Regions from separate parts of the Homo sapiens genome. Here region 2 is linked to region 1. Evidence: fine-mapped expression QTL. Tissue or cell type: fibroblasts. Region 1 holds a variant in brackets; the other region holds the start of a gene. All regions are shown on one strand. Distances are from middle to middle.

Region 1 (8,155 bases):
GATGTATAGGAAGACCCATTTGTTTCTAGCTTCTCCCTGCAGGGAAAATGCTTTCGTCATTATAGCCTCTTTACACAGACTGGCCATTCTAGTGAAACAGGTGGTAAACCTTTGGGCTGCCCAGAAACATTTTATCTGTTTTCACTTACCTAGGAAGGGGAAAGATTAGCGGGTCATCCAAAATCTGTATGTAAGCTATCTTCATTTTCTTCCCCAACCTTCTCCTCCTGGGAAACACAAATGCTATCTCATCTGACAAAAGGTTTTAGAGGATAAAGCTGAAAAGATTGGATTGGGATCTTTTTGTGGCTTGGGGCGGAGCCTTTTGCTAAAATCTCAAGAATGCTGCTTTGAGTTTAGCTAGGGTGGCTCTCAGAACTGGGGTGCCTGGCATTCTCAGCATTTCTCAGGGGCCTCCCACCTCTGACAACTGCAGTGTTAGCTAATACATACCTTGAGCATAGAACTGAATGCTGTAATTCAGAGCCATTTTTTTTTTCAACTTGAACATTGTACAATTTTACTGCAATTTCCTTTGAACTTTCTTGCCACTGTTTGGAATCTTAAAAATTCATTAGCCTTCTCCTTTCTGACATAAAGCTACTCTTCATCAGAGATGAGTTCCTATGTATGTCCTTTGTTCCTTCAATAGCTAATTAATGTGCTTGAGGATACTTCAGTGGAAAAAAAGGTTTAAATATGCAAATTACTAATAAATGTGTAACCTTATGTAACTTGTGTTACATCAAGTAACAAGCTAATCTAGTTTGTTTCACTGGACTAGGCTTGTGCTCCCTACTTCAGTATTTTGATGCTTTCCTTGATCTTTGTTTCACAAAATGTTGTGAATTTTGGTATCATTCAAAACAAATGACATTTATTAGGTTTCATTTTGAAACGATGTACAGACAAGTCCCCAACTTAGAAACCGGTTTGTTCTTAAGGTTCTTGCGTCAGCCCATAGAAGCCCACTGACCTCCACCACAGCCCAAATGGAGGGCTGTGATAGCCAGATCTGGTTGGCTTTTGTGGGCTGACCCAGACATTTAATCACCATCTCTTATGTTGTTGCCGTAAGAAATGCATTCCAGGTTGGGACTTGGGATCCTGAGAGCACATTCGCCCCCTGTGGTGGCCGCTTGCCACCTTGCAAGATGGAAGCCCAGTCTCCTTACTACCAAACTGTAGTTGTAAGCAGAGGGAGGGGTGAGATGTTTATAGGACATTCCCTAAGCTGGGGAGTGATTTTTATCACTATTCATGTCAACTGTACTTTGGTATAGACTCCCTATCAATTTAATAATATGAAAAGCCTAAAATAAAACTATGCATGCTATTCTATGTGCTATTTTATATCAGTAAATAAGCTTATGCTTGCCAGTTGTATACACAGTTATGAGGTGTATAGAACTGACTTTGACAGTATTTTTTGCACTGTTTCCTATCTGTTTTTATAAAGTCTTATTTAGATATTGGACCTTGTTGATGTTCTCACTGCCCTTGTGCTTGCTATAAAATGTTTCATATGTGCCTTTACAAATGTGAGATCTTTATTCTAACCTTTTTTTGTAAAAGATATCTATTGATTTCCATATGCAATAAACCTTTTTTTCAGAGAAAAGTTACATCTTCTCTTTTCTGTACTGTATATGTTTGCATTAGTTGAAAGTGCCTGGGAAAACCTGCATGCTTTGTTTTCTAAAGCCCATTTATTGCTACCCAGTTTTTAGTCCTGCATAACCTTATCATACTGAAGATTTAGTTTGAAATTCCCAAGGTTGTCACTGTTAGAAGAAACCTGAAAGGGGTGATCACTAGGCAAGTGGAGTGAAGAATACATAGAAATGGGTCTTTCTCACAAATGCAGCAATAAGCCTCGTTAAGCTCCAAGCCCCTACTCACTCCTCCTTCACTGTCATTTACTCAGGTACCAAACTGTTGATGTGGAAAAGGCAGGCACCAACCAGGCTGCTGTAGAAAATTTAAATTCTTGCTTTTGCCTTTCAGCTTTATAACAGCTCAACTTGTGTCCAGGTTTAAAGGTGGCTGTCCTGTCCCAGACTTTCAGCCAGTAACCACCATAGCACATTCACGGTGAACCCCTCATATGTGGGTAGATGCTTTATGTATCCTTGGTAAGTAACAGAAAAGTATAACAACTTCTCCCAGTAATGCATTGACAACCCCATGACTATACAAGCAGTTGTTGAACTACCAGAGATCCCAACTAGTTTCACATCAAAAAAATGAGAATACTGTAAGCCACTCTGGGGTGAGAGGATATGGCAAGCAAATCTCATTAAACATACACTTAATTCTCTATGGTGACTGTGGCAACAAAGCAATTATAATTATTGAAAGAAAGGCTACATAATGTTAAAAAAGATGATAGTAGACAAAATAGGCCAATGAAAATGGAGATAAATCGGGTAGAATGGCAGGAGAACAGATACACTAATTCATTTTCTCTTTTGTGAGCTGAGCAAATAGAACCAGTTTCTTTTCTTTGGTTGATAAACAGAAAAAGTAGAGGTTTGTTACATAATTGAGAGAGAAAACAGTAACCTGGTAGACGTATTTGTCTCCAAATATACTGTTAGCAGAGCTGGGGAAGAAAATTTTTAAAAAGAGAGAAACAGAATAATTCCCCACAAAACTAAAGATAAGTATAAGAAACAGCAACGCACACACACAAATATGCAATAAGATGACAATACCAGAACCAAATATGGCTATTTTATGTGATTTTACCTCTTATTTTATTTAATGAAAATAAATGGGAAAAACTCACCAGATTTACTAGTTAAGAAACATAATGGGTGCAAAAAAAAACTCAGCTAAAGAAAAGAAACATCTAACAAAAAGAATAAATGAGACTTGTATAAACACAGCAAAACTCCTTCTGAGGCAAAACTTAGACAAATTGATAAACTTACCACATTCTTGAATAGGAAGACTCCTGAAGAGGCCAGTTCTCTGTATATCACTGACTCTAGTGCAAGTCCAATAAAAAAATCACAACACCACCAGAAAAATTCAAGGGAACCCAGAAGGATTAGCCCTAGTATATACTAAAAGTTTTGCAGTGCAACAATAGAGTATTTTACTGGCACAAGAATAGATCAATAGAATGAAATACTGCAGAAATAAACCAAAGTCTTAGAGAAATGATAATGGTACCCTTCCAAATCAGCATGGGAAAATAATAAATAATTCAACAAGTAATTCAATAAATGAAAACTAAAATTTATTAAGGAATACCATGGGATATTTTATTATTTTTATTTATTTGAGACTGGGTCTCGCTCTGTCGCCCAGCCTGGAGTGCAGTGGCACGATCTTGGCTTACTGAACCCTGTGCCTCCTGGGCGCGGGTGATCCCACCTCGGCCTCCCAAGTAGCTGGGACTACAGGCATGCACCACCACGCCCGGCTAATTTTTGTATTTATTATAGAGATGGGGTTTTGCCATGTTGCACAGGCTCATCCTGAACTCCTGGGCTCAAGTGATCAGCCCACCTTGGACTCCCAAAGTGCTGGGATTACACACATGAGCCACCATGCTTGGCCTGTATATCTTATTAAACAATTCTGCCCGGCGTGGTGGCTCACGCCTATAATCCCAGCACTTCGGGAGGCCGAGGCGGGTGGATCACGAGGTCAGGAGTTTGGGACCAGCCAGACCAACGTGGTGAAACCCTGTCTCTACTAAAAATGCAAAAATTAGCCAGGCGTGGTGGCGCATGCCTGTAATCCCAGCTACTTAGGAGGCTGAGACAGGAGAATCGCTTGAACCCGGGAGGCGGAGGTTGTAGTGAGCCGAGATTGCGCTATTGTACTCCAGCCTGGGTGACAGAGCGAGACTCAGTCTCAAAAAAAAAAAAAAAAAAATTCTAGCTAGATGAAAGATTTAAATAAAAATTAATATTACTTTTTACAATAAACCAGTAATAGTTTTATTCACTTAAAGATGAAAACAATCTGCTTTTGTACAGCAAGGGTCATGAAAAATAAAGTTAATGGACAACTAGAGTAAAAATATTTTTAA[T/C]ATATGACAAGGAGCTAATACCCCAATATATACAGAGCTCAGAAGTTATTATGAAAGACATTAACATATAGCAAAACAAGCAATGGCCATGTGGTATCACAGAAAATTCTGGAATTTCATATCAAGGGTGATAGGAGGCTCTTTTGTTTTAGTGAGACAATTTTTTTTTTTTTTTTGAGACACAGTCTCGCTCTGTCACCCAGGCTGGAGTGAAGTGGTGCGATCTCGGCTCACTGCAAGCTCCGCCTCCCAGGTTCACGCCATTCTCCTGCCTCAGCCTCCCGAGTAGCTGGGACTACAGGTGCCCGCCACCAAGCCTGGCTAATTTTTTGTATTTTTAGTAGAGACGGGGTTTCACCATGTTAGCCAGGATGGTCTCAATCTCCTGACCTTGTGATCTACCCGCCTCGGCCTCCCAAAGTGCTGGCATTACAGGCGTGAGCCACCGCGCCCGGCTGTAGTGAGACAATTCTTAGTGGTACCCTAGATAGCTTCAGGATGGGGGCAGGTCTTCAGAAAGACTAAGACTTGATTAGGAGCTTAGAACTTTCAGCCCCATCCCCAACCTCTGGAAAGAAAGAGATCCTAGAGATTGAGTCAATTTCAATGGTGAATTAATCAATTGTGCTTATGTAATGGAATTGCCATAAAACCCCCTGACCAATAGCATTCAGAGAGCTTCTGAGTTGGTGAATACATCCACATGCCAGGAGTGTGGCATACCACAACTCCATGGGAACAGAAGCTTCTCTCAGGATCCTTCCGGACTTTACCCTATGTTCACCCTCTTCATTGGCCTATTCATTTGTCTTTTTTATAATAAACCAGTAATAGAAAGTAAAGTGTGTTTTAGAGTTTTGTGAGCTATTCTAGCAAATTAATGAACATAAAATAAGGGAGGAGGTGTTGTGGGAAGCCCTTGACTTTGTAGCCAAGTCAGACAGAAGTATGGTTAACCTGGGAACCTGAATAACTTGTGACTGGCATCTGAAGTGAGGGCAGTCTTGTGGGACTGAGCCCTTAAACCAGTGTAGTCTGACACTAACTCTGGGTAATTAGTGTCAGAGTTGAATTGAATTGTAGGACACACAGTTGGTGATTGAAGAGTTAGAGAATGGTTGTGAGGCATAAAAACAAAAACACCACACATTTGGTTTCAGAACTGTTGTGAGTCAAAACAGCTCATATTGGTGTCAGAAGTGGGATTAGAAAGACCCTGATTATTTAGTGTCAGAAAATTTAGGATTCACTAGAATGGTCCTAGCTAATGGAAAAGTGGTTTGGGAAGAGAAAGGATGAAAGGGTGGGAGATACAGAACTTTTGATTCCTGGGTGGTCATGTAGTCACCCATGATATGGACCAGCATGACAGCTGTGCTGTTATCAGTGACTAAATTTAGTTACAAATGGAATTTGGAGGTGGATCTAACTGCTGAGGAATTGGTTCATTGGATGCGTAAGGAAATGTAAATGAATAGGAAAAGTGCAGAACATATAACTCCTTGGTTTTTGTTATATCTGTAATAGCTAAAGTGAAATTAAAAGAGTGCTGGATGGACTTTGATGCTAAACCAAACTCAGATTTTGGTCAGTCTGAACTTTGGCCACTAGCCTTGAAGCTGCCCTCAAAGGGTAGAATTATGTGGAGACAACAAAGGGTACCTCTAAGACCTCTGGTCACCAAGAAGTTGGTGTGTGTAGGGGGAAGGTACAACCAATAAACTATTGAAACCAGGGGGGATAGTGTGGAAGAGTTGTCGCATTTGTAGATCAATATCATCAGCTTCCTGAAAAACCCTTACTTAAGTGGATTCTGAGAGTAACTGATTTAGAGACAGTATCTTTGGTTTTGAATGCTGCAGAATGAAAGAACATGTCTGGGTTGACAGAGGACTCACTGCTCACTGTGGAACAATCACAGATGGCTATATCTGACACAGACACACAGCAGGTTATTCCTGAAGAAACAACCAGCCTGGTGGACTGGATAAAAGGCACTATGAGGTATGTTTACTCTGAGAAGTGAGGCTGTCCAACTCCCCCTATAAATGTTAAAAGCAACACTCTGATGAAGTACCTGATAAACTGTGTATGCAAGTCATGTGGGACTGGCTTTTTGGTAATTGGGACACTCACCCATTGAATATGCCCATTGCCAAGATCATGGTCAATGTTATGATTAAGAGGCATGGGCACCTTTTGCGTGGGTGTCGCATATAACTTTACTGCTGCAAAACTGAGCAACAGTCTTAGAAGCCCTATCAAATTTGCTCTCTCTGCTTCCTCTCATGGTTCTTACTGATGCTAATTAAAACACTAGACTAATTCACAGGAAAATATGAATTAGGCATAGGTATGAAAGGTAGAGGGATGAGTCCAGGGATTCATCCTAAGAGGGTAGAAATTTTTAAATGGTTAAGAAATGGAGTGAATAAAGAAAACATTGATAGTGGCAAAACAAAAAGCAAAAAGAAAGGGAAAGAGTCAACAGACTTGTCCCAGCAGGGTGAAAACCTTGAATGGTTATTAAAAAATGGGATGAGGCCAGGTGTGGTGGCTCACGCCTGTAATCTCAGCACTTTGGGAGGACAAGGTGGGTGGATCACCTGAGGTTAGGAGTTTGAGACCAGCCTGGCCGACATGGTGAAACCCCATATCTACTAAAAATAAAAAAATTAGCCGGGCATGGTGGTGCACACCTGTAATCCCACCTACTTGGGAGGCTGAGGCAGAAGAATCGCTTGAACCTGGGAGGAGGAGGTTGCAGCGAGCTGAGATCATGCCATTGCACTCCAGCCTGGGTGACAGAGTGAGACTTCATCTCAAAAAAACAAACAAAAAAAAAGGTATGACTAAGACAGACATTGATAGGGTTAAAACAAAGGTCTTAATACAGCACTATTAAAGTTTGGGTGGACCAAAGTGTCTCCTAATGGTATTAGTCCATTTTCACACTGCTGATAAAGACATACCCAGTCTCGGGTATGTCTTTATCAGACTGGGTATAAAGAAAAAGAAGTTTAACAGACTCACACTTCCATGTGGCTGGGGTGGCCTCACAATCATGGTGGAAGGCAAAAGGCACGTCTTACGTGGCAGCAGATAAGAGAGAATGAGAGCCAAAGGGAAAGAGGTTTCCCCTTATAAAACCATCAGATCTCGTGAGACTTATTCACTACCACGAGAACAGTATGGGGGAAACCACCCCCATGATTCAATTATGTCCCACCAGGTCCCTCCCGCAACACATGGGAATTATGGGAGCTACAATTCAAAATGAGATTTGGGTGGGGACACAGCAAAAACATATCAGTCACCCAACATTAAAGGGTCCCAAACAAGTTCACTCTATTTACTCCAGTTTGGAGAAATTTTAAAAGCCAGAAGGCCAAGATTACAATGAGAAACCTGACCTGGAATCACAGGACAATAGTAAGATTAACCAAGACCAAGACTGACAAAAAGGTCAGAGTTCTTTGCCTCAACCCCCTGCTGGTGACCCAAAGCTTTATGTAAATGAATGGGTTATGTACATGAATGGGTTATGTACATGAATGGGTTATGTACTCCACCCATTTAGGGGGTGGAGAAATTTCTGGAACTCCTTTACATGGGGGCTTCATGGACTGTGGTATCCAAACCCACTGGTGAAGCTCTAACATAAGCTAGAATTAGGTTGAGGGAATACAGAAGAGTTGACAGGATTATGAAAGTTAGAATGTTTAAACAGACTTTTTGTAAAATTGTGTCTCCTTTACTTGAATGTTTTGTGGGAATGGATATTATGTCATCTTGGGGAACACTTTCTTTACCTAATATTGTAAAACTAAAACTTGTTGATGATGTCCGATGGTGGCTACAGTTAGGACTGTAGGGGTTGATGAGATTAAGGTGAAAATTTGTACAAAAAGTTGCATCTGAATGTATTATGGGGATGGACATTAGGTTTAACTGAGGAACTGTGTCTGCAAAGAAGAAGGTGTATAAATCATCTTCAAGCAATATTAATTGGACATGCTAAATGGGAACCAGTAAGATTGCCCAAGCCCACACAGTGTAGAATAAAAGCTGGAGTGCTGATATACACAAAATCTCTGTGGGATAGTT
Region 2 (8,155 bases), 210 kb before region 1:
AGATGGACGTTTTCTATATCTTGACCTGGGTGGTGGCCCCATGCATGTATACACATGAAAAGGTCTTCAAGCTGCATCTACACTTAAGAGTTGTGCTTTTTATTGAATGTGAATTGTATCTTCCTAAAACACTGTCTAAAAATATTACACTCCTCCCAACTCCCACCATAACCCATCTCTACCCTAGACCCAGGGCATAAGATACAGAAGCAGAGGATTCAGAGAGGATGTATATTTGAAAAAGCTTCCCACTTCTCTCCATTACTCCAAGTTGCTAAACATCCTTTTAGGAATTGGAATTAAGCTGGACTATATACATACATGTACATATAAAACTTAAAAATTTGTAAAAGGCCCCTAGAGATCATCAGAGTTTTCTTAACAAAGCAGGCTTACTTTCCAGTTGGCTTTGATTTGGGGAACTTGTTCTGCTTTCAGTGGCTTCAGCATCTTTGAAGGTGTAAAATGAATGCATTAATGAGAGGAACACATTGGGGCTGGGAGGAATTGTGGAAGCCCACGGGATTCTTCTTTGTATTTGTAGTTTGAATTGGGCTTATAAGAATCTGGTAATTGCTTTGAGAAATGTAATATTGATAAGTTCTTACAATTGCAAAGCTTTAAAGCAAACATGTAGTGATGTGTTCAGGACCTATTCCATGAGTCGAATTCCTTTTCACCCTGATGTAGTATAAGGAGACTTGAGTGTGACAAAGATTTAGGAAATGGGTTTCTTTTTTCTTTTTGAAAGAAGCTTGAAACTAGCTTTTATATATTTATCCTGAGAATGAAAGGTTTTTGTCACTTCAAGCTGTACTTTCTATTTAGAAAATATTCTTTTTTTTTTTTTTTGAGACGAAGCCTTGCTCTGTCGCCCAGGCTGGAGTGCCATGGCGCGATCTCGGGTCACTGCAAGCTCCACCTCCTGGGTTCACGCCATTCTCCTGCCTCAGCCTCCCAAGTAGATGGGACTGCAGGCGCCCACCACCACGCCTGGCTAATTTTGTATTTTTAGTAGAGAAGGGGTTTCACTGTGGTCTCGATCTCCTGACCTCGTGATCCACCCGCCTCGGCCTCCCAAAGTGCTGGGATTATAGGTGTGAGCCACCGCGCCCGGCCTTAGAAAATATTCTTATTTGTATTGCCTTTCTGTGATCTATTCTAAAGAAAAAGAAATATGGCTAGTCAGATACACTCTATAGGCTTTTAAGTTAATAACGCATATTTTTTTTCTTTTTCAAGAGAGGATCTCACTCTGTCACCCAGGCTGGAGTGCAGTGGTGTGATCTCAGCTCATTGCAGCCTCGGTCTCTCAGGCTCATGCAATCCTCCCACCTCAGCCTCTCTAGTAGCTGGGACTACAAGCCTCGAGCTACCATACCTGACTAATTTTTGTATTTTGTGTAGAGTTGGGGTTTCGCCATGTTGCCCAGACTGTCTTCCTGTAAGTAAAATTATCTAAATTTTTAAAATGTGTCCACAGGGTTAGTGCTAAATCTTAGCTTTACTTATCATTGAACACTCAGCCACATTCATTGGAGTCTCAACATTCATTTTCATCTGAAGGCGGTGTGAAAACAGTCCTGTCCCCAGACACTGGCTTTATCCACTGGCTTTATTGCTTAGCTTCCTCCACAGGCATGCCATCTATCTGGAGAAGAGTACTTTGATGGAAGTTTAGTCCTGGGAAAGACCTCAGAGATGAACTATTCCAACCAAGCTCTGCCCTCTTTGCCACACTCTACTTAGAAAATAAATTCAGGCCTAGAGGTGAAGTGCCTTGATCAGGGTCCCAAGGCTGGTCAGAGGCAGAACCGGAACCCTTGTGTCTGCCCAAGAAGGACAACAAGTCCTTTGCTGCTTCTTTTATGCCACAACAGCCTCAGGGTGCTGTGCTCAGTTTGGTAGCACAGTGATGTTAGAGCAACACAATATATTTCCTAGTGTCTTTTCACTAGAAAAGACACCAAGCAAGAGGTCTCCCATCTCCCAGGAAAGAGCAAAGGCCAGAGTTTTACATTGAGATCCTGAAGGCATTTTCTTATCTTTAATCCTAATCCTGTTTGGGTCCAATTTCAAAGAGATGAAGAGCATGCACTTTAGGCCTGACAGACTAGGGCCCTGATCATATCTTCCTAGTTGTATGACCCTCAGTGAGACAGGTAATTTCTTCATGCCTCACTTTCCTCATCTAGGAATGGGGGAGTGCTTTCCACACTTTCTGGAACACAGTCAGGCACTGCCTAATGTTTTCTTTGGAAACCCAGCACGTCTGTACAGCTATTTCCTTTAAAATGTGAGAAAGTTGATTTCCCTTCAACCTTTTCTTTCCATCACTTTTGCATTGCACTCGGCGTTTTCTCTAATTTACAGTTCTAGAGATTGGCAGATGCTCGAAGAAAATCAGAGTCACTACGGATTTATTTATTTTATTTTATTTTATTTTATTTTATTTTTTTGAGAGGAGTCTGGCCGTGTAGCCCAGGCTGGAGTGCAGTGGCGCGATCTCGGCTCACTGCAACCTCCGCCTCCCAAGTTCAAGCAATTAACCTGCCTCAGCCCCAGAGTAGCTGGGACTACAGGCGCACGCCGCCACCCCCGAAACATTTTTTGAATTTTAGTAGAGACGGGGTTTCACCGTGTTGCCCGGGCTGGTGTCGAACTTCTGAGCTCAGCCAATCCCCCAGCTTTGGCTTCCCAAAGTGCTGGGATTACAGGTGTGAGCCACCGCGCTTTTTGGTTTCCAATTCTCTTCCCCAAGAGGCCAGGAATTTTTGCATGAGTTGCCGGACACTGAAGTGATTTGGGACAATACATTGTGTGCCAACGACTTCAAGGTCCCTTTTCAACAAAGGACTGGAATCTTACCGAGATAAATCCCAAGACATGTTTGTAGCAATGCAAAGGACCACAGAAATCTAGACAAATTATTTAATTTTGCAGCTACAGAAACCTAGGATCTCAGGGGCTGGGATACTCCTCAGTTATCCAATCGGGCAGGGCCTAAAACCCAGGTTCAGTCGCCTGGCTCCGAGCTTTTTCCATCATACCAGCTGCGTCTCATTAACTCCACCTCCGAAAGTGCTAAGGAAGTTCCCTCCCAGTGCCTACCCAGGCAGGGTGGGGCGATTCTGTGGCATGGAACAAACCGGGAAAACGACATTTTCCAACTCTCAGCACACAGGCTGCTTTTTATCATTCCTACGGGGCGGGAGGGGGCAGGGAGAGAAGGCTAAGACACCGGGTCCAGTACCCAGAGATTCTAGGGAGAGATCTCTGAGATTGCCTACTTGGTGAGGCCACCTTACTTTCTCCTGGTCTGTTTTCCCCTGTGGGGTGGCTGCATGAAACGTCCTGCTTGGAGGGTTCCCCAATATAAGGTGGACTATTCTGAATGTAGGTCGGGGTGAGCAAGTTCCTGCCGCCGCCCCGTCTCTGCGGTCCTCGGAAGTCTAGGTGGGCTCTTCCTTGCCTTGCCTCTTTCTCCCCAACGGCGGGAGCAGCCCAGGGTTGGGGTGGCTGCGGTCGCCTTGCTCTCTCCACTTCCACGTCTCTTACTCCAGGGAGTTTCATCCGGTCCTCCGTCCTCGGCCCCCACCTTTTAAAACATTTTCCAAAACTACCCCATTAAAAGTGTGCGACTTCTCCGGGCCTGCAGAAGGAGCTCCTGCAGCCCGGCATTCCTCGGATTCCAGCGCTGTGACGTCCCCAAGGACGGCGCGCCTCCAGCTCGGGAGCTCGGGAGCTGGGGCTCCACGTTTCAGCGCGCGCCCGCGGCGCCCCCGGCGCGCGCCCTCCCGGGCCGCATTCCTCCCCGCCCCCGGCCGCGCGCCCAGCGCTCCCTCCGCCTCCCGGCCCCCAGGGCCGCGGAGCCCGGCTCTGGGGTGGGGGAGCCGTGGCCGCCGGCGCCTGCTCCGTCCCCTCCCACTCGCACGGCCCCTTCCTCCCTCCTCTCCCGGCCGCTCGCATTTCCTGCCGCTCTGGCTCTCCCGGCCCCTCAAAGTTCTTTCCAACTTTTTCTCGGCGGAGTGAGCGCAGCGGGCGCAGACTCGGGGGCAGGTTGCTGTGCTTCTCCGGGCTCAGCCGCCTGCTCTCCTGGCTCAGGTCCTCGGGGAGCCCTAGACAGACATCAAGTGGCCACTGGCGCTCCTTCCCCTCCCAGCTGAGCCATCCTCCCCGGCCTCCTCGGGCGGGACAGCCCCGTGCTTAGGTTTTTCTCCTTTTCTCCCCCGGTGCGCCTCTGCTCGGACTCTCGCGCCGGGATCGCGGCGGAAACCTCCCTCCCCTTTCGCCTCCTGCGGCTCCTTCCCTTCGCCCCTCCTCCGCCAGTCACTGGAATCAATTCCGTGGGGAATCGGCTCCGCCGCCGCGAAGGACAGCCTTTCCGCGCGGGACTCCGGGGCGCCACGGGGGCCATGTAAGCAGGTAAGCCCCGTCCAAGCCGGGAGTTGGGCCCGAGGTTGGAGGCCGCCTTGGCGCTCCGGGCGCCCTGCAGATGACTTGGGCAGACGCTGGCAACGCCAACTTGCGATTGGCGCCCCGGGACGCCTGGCAGGGCAGCCTGGGGCGCGGGGTGGCCGGGCCGCAGGGGTGTTATCTCGCGGTGGGAGCTGCCCGCGGTGAGGCGCAAAGCTGGTCCCGGGAGCGAGCTGGAAGGTGAGCGCAGTCTGGGGAGTTTGTGGTTAAACCCACACCCTGGTCCCCTCTCTCCATTCCCTTCTGCGTTTTGGGAACGAGAGAGGGCCTCGGAAGGGCAACTAGAGATACCTAGACCTTGGGGGCTAGAGGATGAAAGACGAACGACGTCGCGGTCGCTGCAGCGGTAGGGGGATGCAGCTGCCCGACGCTCCCAATCACACCCCACCACCACCGGGAAGGAATCTTGAGGGGAGCGGAGTTTTCCTGCCCTCTCACTAGGCCCCAGTGGTGCCACCGAACTCCTGGGCGTCGAGGCTCCTACTTGGGTGGTCGAGCTGGCTCGTAGAAAAAAAGCTGTGGCCAAACAATTTCAGATCAGGTCTTCACCTCAAACTTCCAAAGTTGTAGGTATTAACAGCCTCTCCTTCCCCACGTGACCCCCAGATCTCAGGTTTGAATACTTGTAAATGGGGTTTACACCTTTTCGTTTGGAGAGAGCAGTGAGGTAACGCTGCCCCTATCTCCCTTTCCCTCTCACTTCCTTGGGTTCTTGTTCTCCAACCTTCTCATCCCCACCTACAATTTCAGAAATTGTGGGGTTTCCGCTTAAGTCTAGGGACTGGCTGTCGCAGGTTCTTTGTGAAGGTGAGGAATCTCTAGACTGCAGGTGCGGGCAGTTACAGAGTTTCCACCAATGTGTTAACTTCTTGAAATGGATTAGTTTACTCATTCATCCAACAAACCCAGCTTCTACTCTGCTAGGAACAGGATAGAAAGATGCTAAATGAGATCACAGGGCAGGAGTCTGCAGCCTAGTGGAGGAAACTTGAAGGCCGGTGAAGAATGATAATACATGGAAGAGGGGTTCTGTGAGAGTCTGAGGCGAGCTTGGTCCTGGTGAAGGGTGCACTACACTTAGAGGATAGAGGTTGTGCTCCTCTGGAGGGTGTATTCCAGGCAGAGGAAACAGCTCGTGCAGAGTGAACACAAGAAGGACAGAAAGTTTCCCTAGCCATCTGGGGGCCTGAGGGGCATTTATGGCCATGTTGGTGCAGTGTTGCTGGGATAGCATTCTCTCCACCCCCAATATCAGAAATAAATCTAGAAGCACGTTAGCCACTTATGGGAACCACAAGTAGCTTACCGAGGAGCCAAGGCCTCCCTAATTGGATACACCTCCATGCCTGCTGCTGTTTTACCACAAGCAGCTGTTGTATGATCATCTACATTTTAATTGGCCCATGCTCGGTTTCATTAAAATGGTATTGATTCTTCTTTTTTGTCCCCCACATTCAAGCAATGATTCCTTTTTTAAAAAGGCTGTTTGACAGCCGTAGGTGTGGTAATACCGCAGCATTACGGACCTTGTATTATAAAGTTAGCTAATTGTTTGGTGATGAGGTTGAAGCTTGTGCCATAGAAATGACAGCCTTAATGAGCGGGAGCTGAATGGCATGATGCCCTTTTTGCCCAGTCTGAATGGGTGGCCATGAGGTGCAAAATTCGTTCATCTGTATGTCACTAAGTTTGTTATACTTTTCTCTGCTTTTAAGTCATTACTATTGCTTTAGCACAGTTGTGCTAAAGTCGTTCTTTTCTCTGAAACTTTATGAAAATAGAAAACACTATCTTGCACATTTTTGTAGACTAATGGCCCAGGATTCAGCAAATCCTGCCTAGAAAAGTTTCTTACAATGCAGTAGCATTCTGTACGTGGTTTGCCTTTCAAGGGTGTCTCTTCACTGGACTGAAGTGGTGTTGTAGTATTGTTCATAGTGGCTGAGTCCTGGCTGAGGTGGCAGACATCCAGCTTTTGGTGACCTCAGGCCAGTACATCAGAGTGGGAAGAACACACTGACTTCCTACAACTTTGGGTGTTTATCCAAGCCCCTCTACCAGCATCTTTTCTTATCTCAGGAACAGCCCCTTCACAGAAGTTTTCCTGAAGGTGTAGGGACCTGCATGAGAGAAATGGCTGAAGAGAAGCCCACTCCCACTAATCCCAGACATTTGCCCAGTTTCCATCATTGGCTTAAACATGTAATTATTATTAACACTTGAGTTATTCAGATTTGTGCATACTGTGTCATGCTGGTAGCTGTAATAGAAAGGACAGTTAGGCTTTTAATAGGGAAGCACCATAAGGAATTCAGAGAAAAATCAGAATTTTTAGAATAATTCTTATTTGCCCTGAACGGATGGGCTAAGTGTCAAGAACTATGAGGATTTTTTATTTTCCAGTGCCTTCCTTCCTTATTAGAGGTTTAAATTTGCTCCGGGGAAGCAAACATCAACCCTTTGATTACATATTATAGCCCCCCTGGGTTCCATATTCTTGTCATTTTTGAACAAGGATTTCATCAAATTCTTGCATTTGAGCTTCATTACTTAGTCACCAAATGCTGTGTTTTTAAAAAATTCATTTTAAGCCTGAGAACAGTGCTGTGAGCTTTGTTAGAGATAAGGCATGAGAAAGACAAGATGAAATACTTAATTAGCCAATTAAGGAATGAGGGAAAACAAACACGAAAGCTTTGGTAGGGAGGAGGTTCAAGTTAATGTTAAAATACGCTTTTGGATCTCCCCTTACGGATTTAAATTGATTTAATTTACGCTTCCTCTGTATGCATCCCATGGAGGGCTTATTGAGTGGTCCAAGGGGTATGTGTGGCAAATTCTGTAGCTTTTCCTGGCTGTCAGTGTGCTGGAGCAGGCGGTCCAGGTTTGGGAGTTTGAAATATAGCTAGGTTGGAATTCTAGCGCTGCCATTTTTTAGCTGTGTGATGTTGGATGGACGTCATAGCCCTTCTGAGCCTCAGTTTCTTCATCTGCAAAATGGATCTGGTAACATTTGGCCTCTCAGGATATGTATGGAGAATTCAGTGTCATGCTGTATAACAGTACCTCACACAGAATAGGTCAAGGATGGCTATTTATATGTTCAAGGACTTGTATGTGGCCATGAATGTGCTCTTTGTGTGTGATTTTTTTCAGCAGCCTGAATTCACATGTGTGTCAACATACACATAAAGCTTTGTTTTTGACTTTTTTTTTTTTTTCAGTCTATTGGCTCAAAATAAACATGTTGGCTGGCAGCTGCCATGTGGCTCCTCCTACAAGAGGAAATTGAGAGGTGGGGGACCAGGCAGTAGAGAAGTTTGAGGAGGGAAAGCCACTGAGAGATTAGAAGGGCAGAGAACAAGATCCTTTTCCTTGTATACTTCTTACTGTAATGATGGTCCAGTGTTTTATATAAGGATCCTTGTATTTCTAATGTTGAAATCTAGTTGATTAAAGAATGTTAGGATAACTCTGTCTGCCTTTAACTAGAGTACAAAAGCTAGCTGCTGTATCTTTGCAGCCTTGATTTCCCTTTTTGAAGCCCAAATATAAACAGTAAACTGCAACACTTCTAGTGTAATGCCAGCCACTGGTTATTTGAACTTTAATGTTGTCTTTCATCTGAGAAGCCTAGAGTATTTGACAAACGTTAAATCATAGATCTTCGTATCAACCT

What was found. PIP is the estimated chance that this variant, and not a neighbour inherited with it, causes the effect.
Region 2: it holds the start of PTPN14, and the variant in region 1 is fine-mapped to the expression of PTPN14 in fibroblasts (GTEx, PIP above 0.99).

What each region holds. Positions count from the first base shown.
Region 1 is chr1:214,342,166-214,350,320 of GRCh38, reverse strand. PTPN14 (protein tyrosine phosphatase non-receptor type 14) reads left to right here. Exons shown (of 19, transcript NM_005401.5): 19 at 1-1,621. Among named protein-coding and RNA genes, the nearest start is that of SMYD2, 65 kb to the right of the region's middle. RefSeq lists an enhancer at 7,288-7,789. The variant T/C (reference allele first, on the strand shown) is at 4,049.
Region 2 is chr1:214,547,453-214,555,607 of GRCh38, reverse strand. PTPN14 (protein tyrosine phosphatase non-receptor type 14) reads left to right here and starts at 4,006. Exons shown (of 19, transcript NM_005401.5): 1 at 4,006-4,425. RefSeq lists enhancers at 2,880-3,700, 3,701-4,521, 4,522-5,343.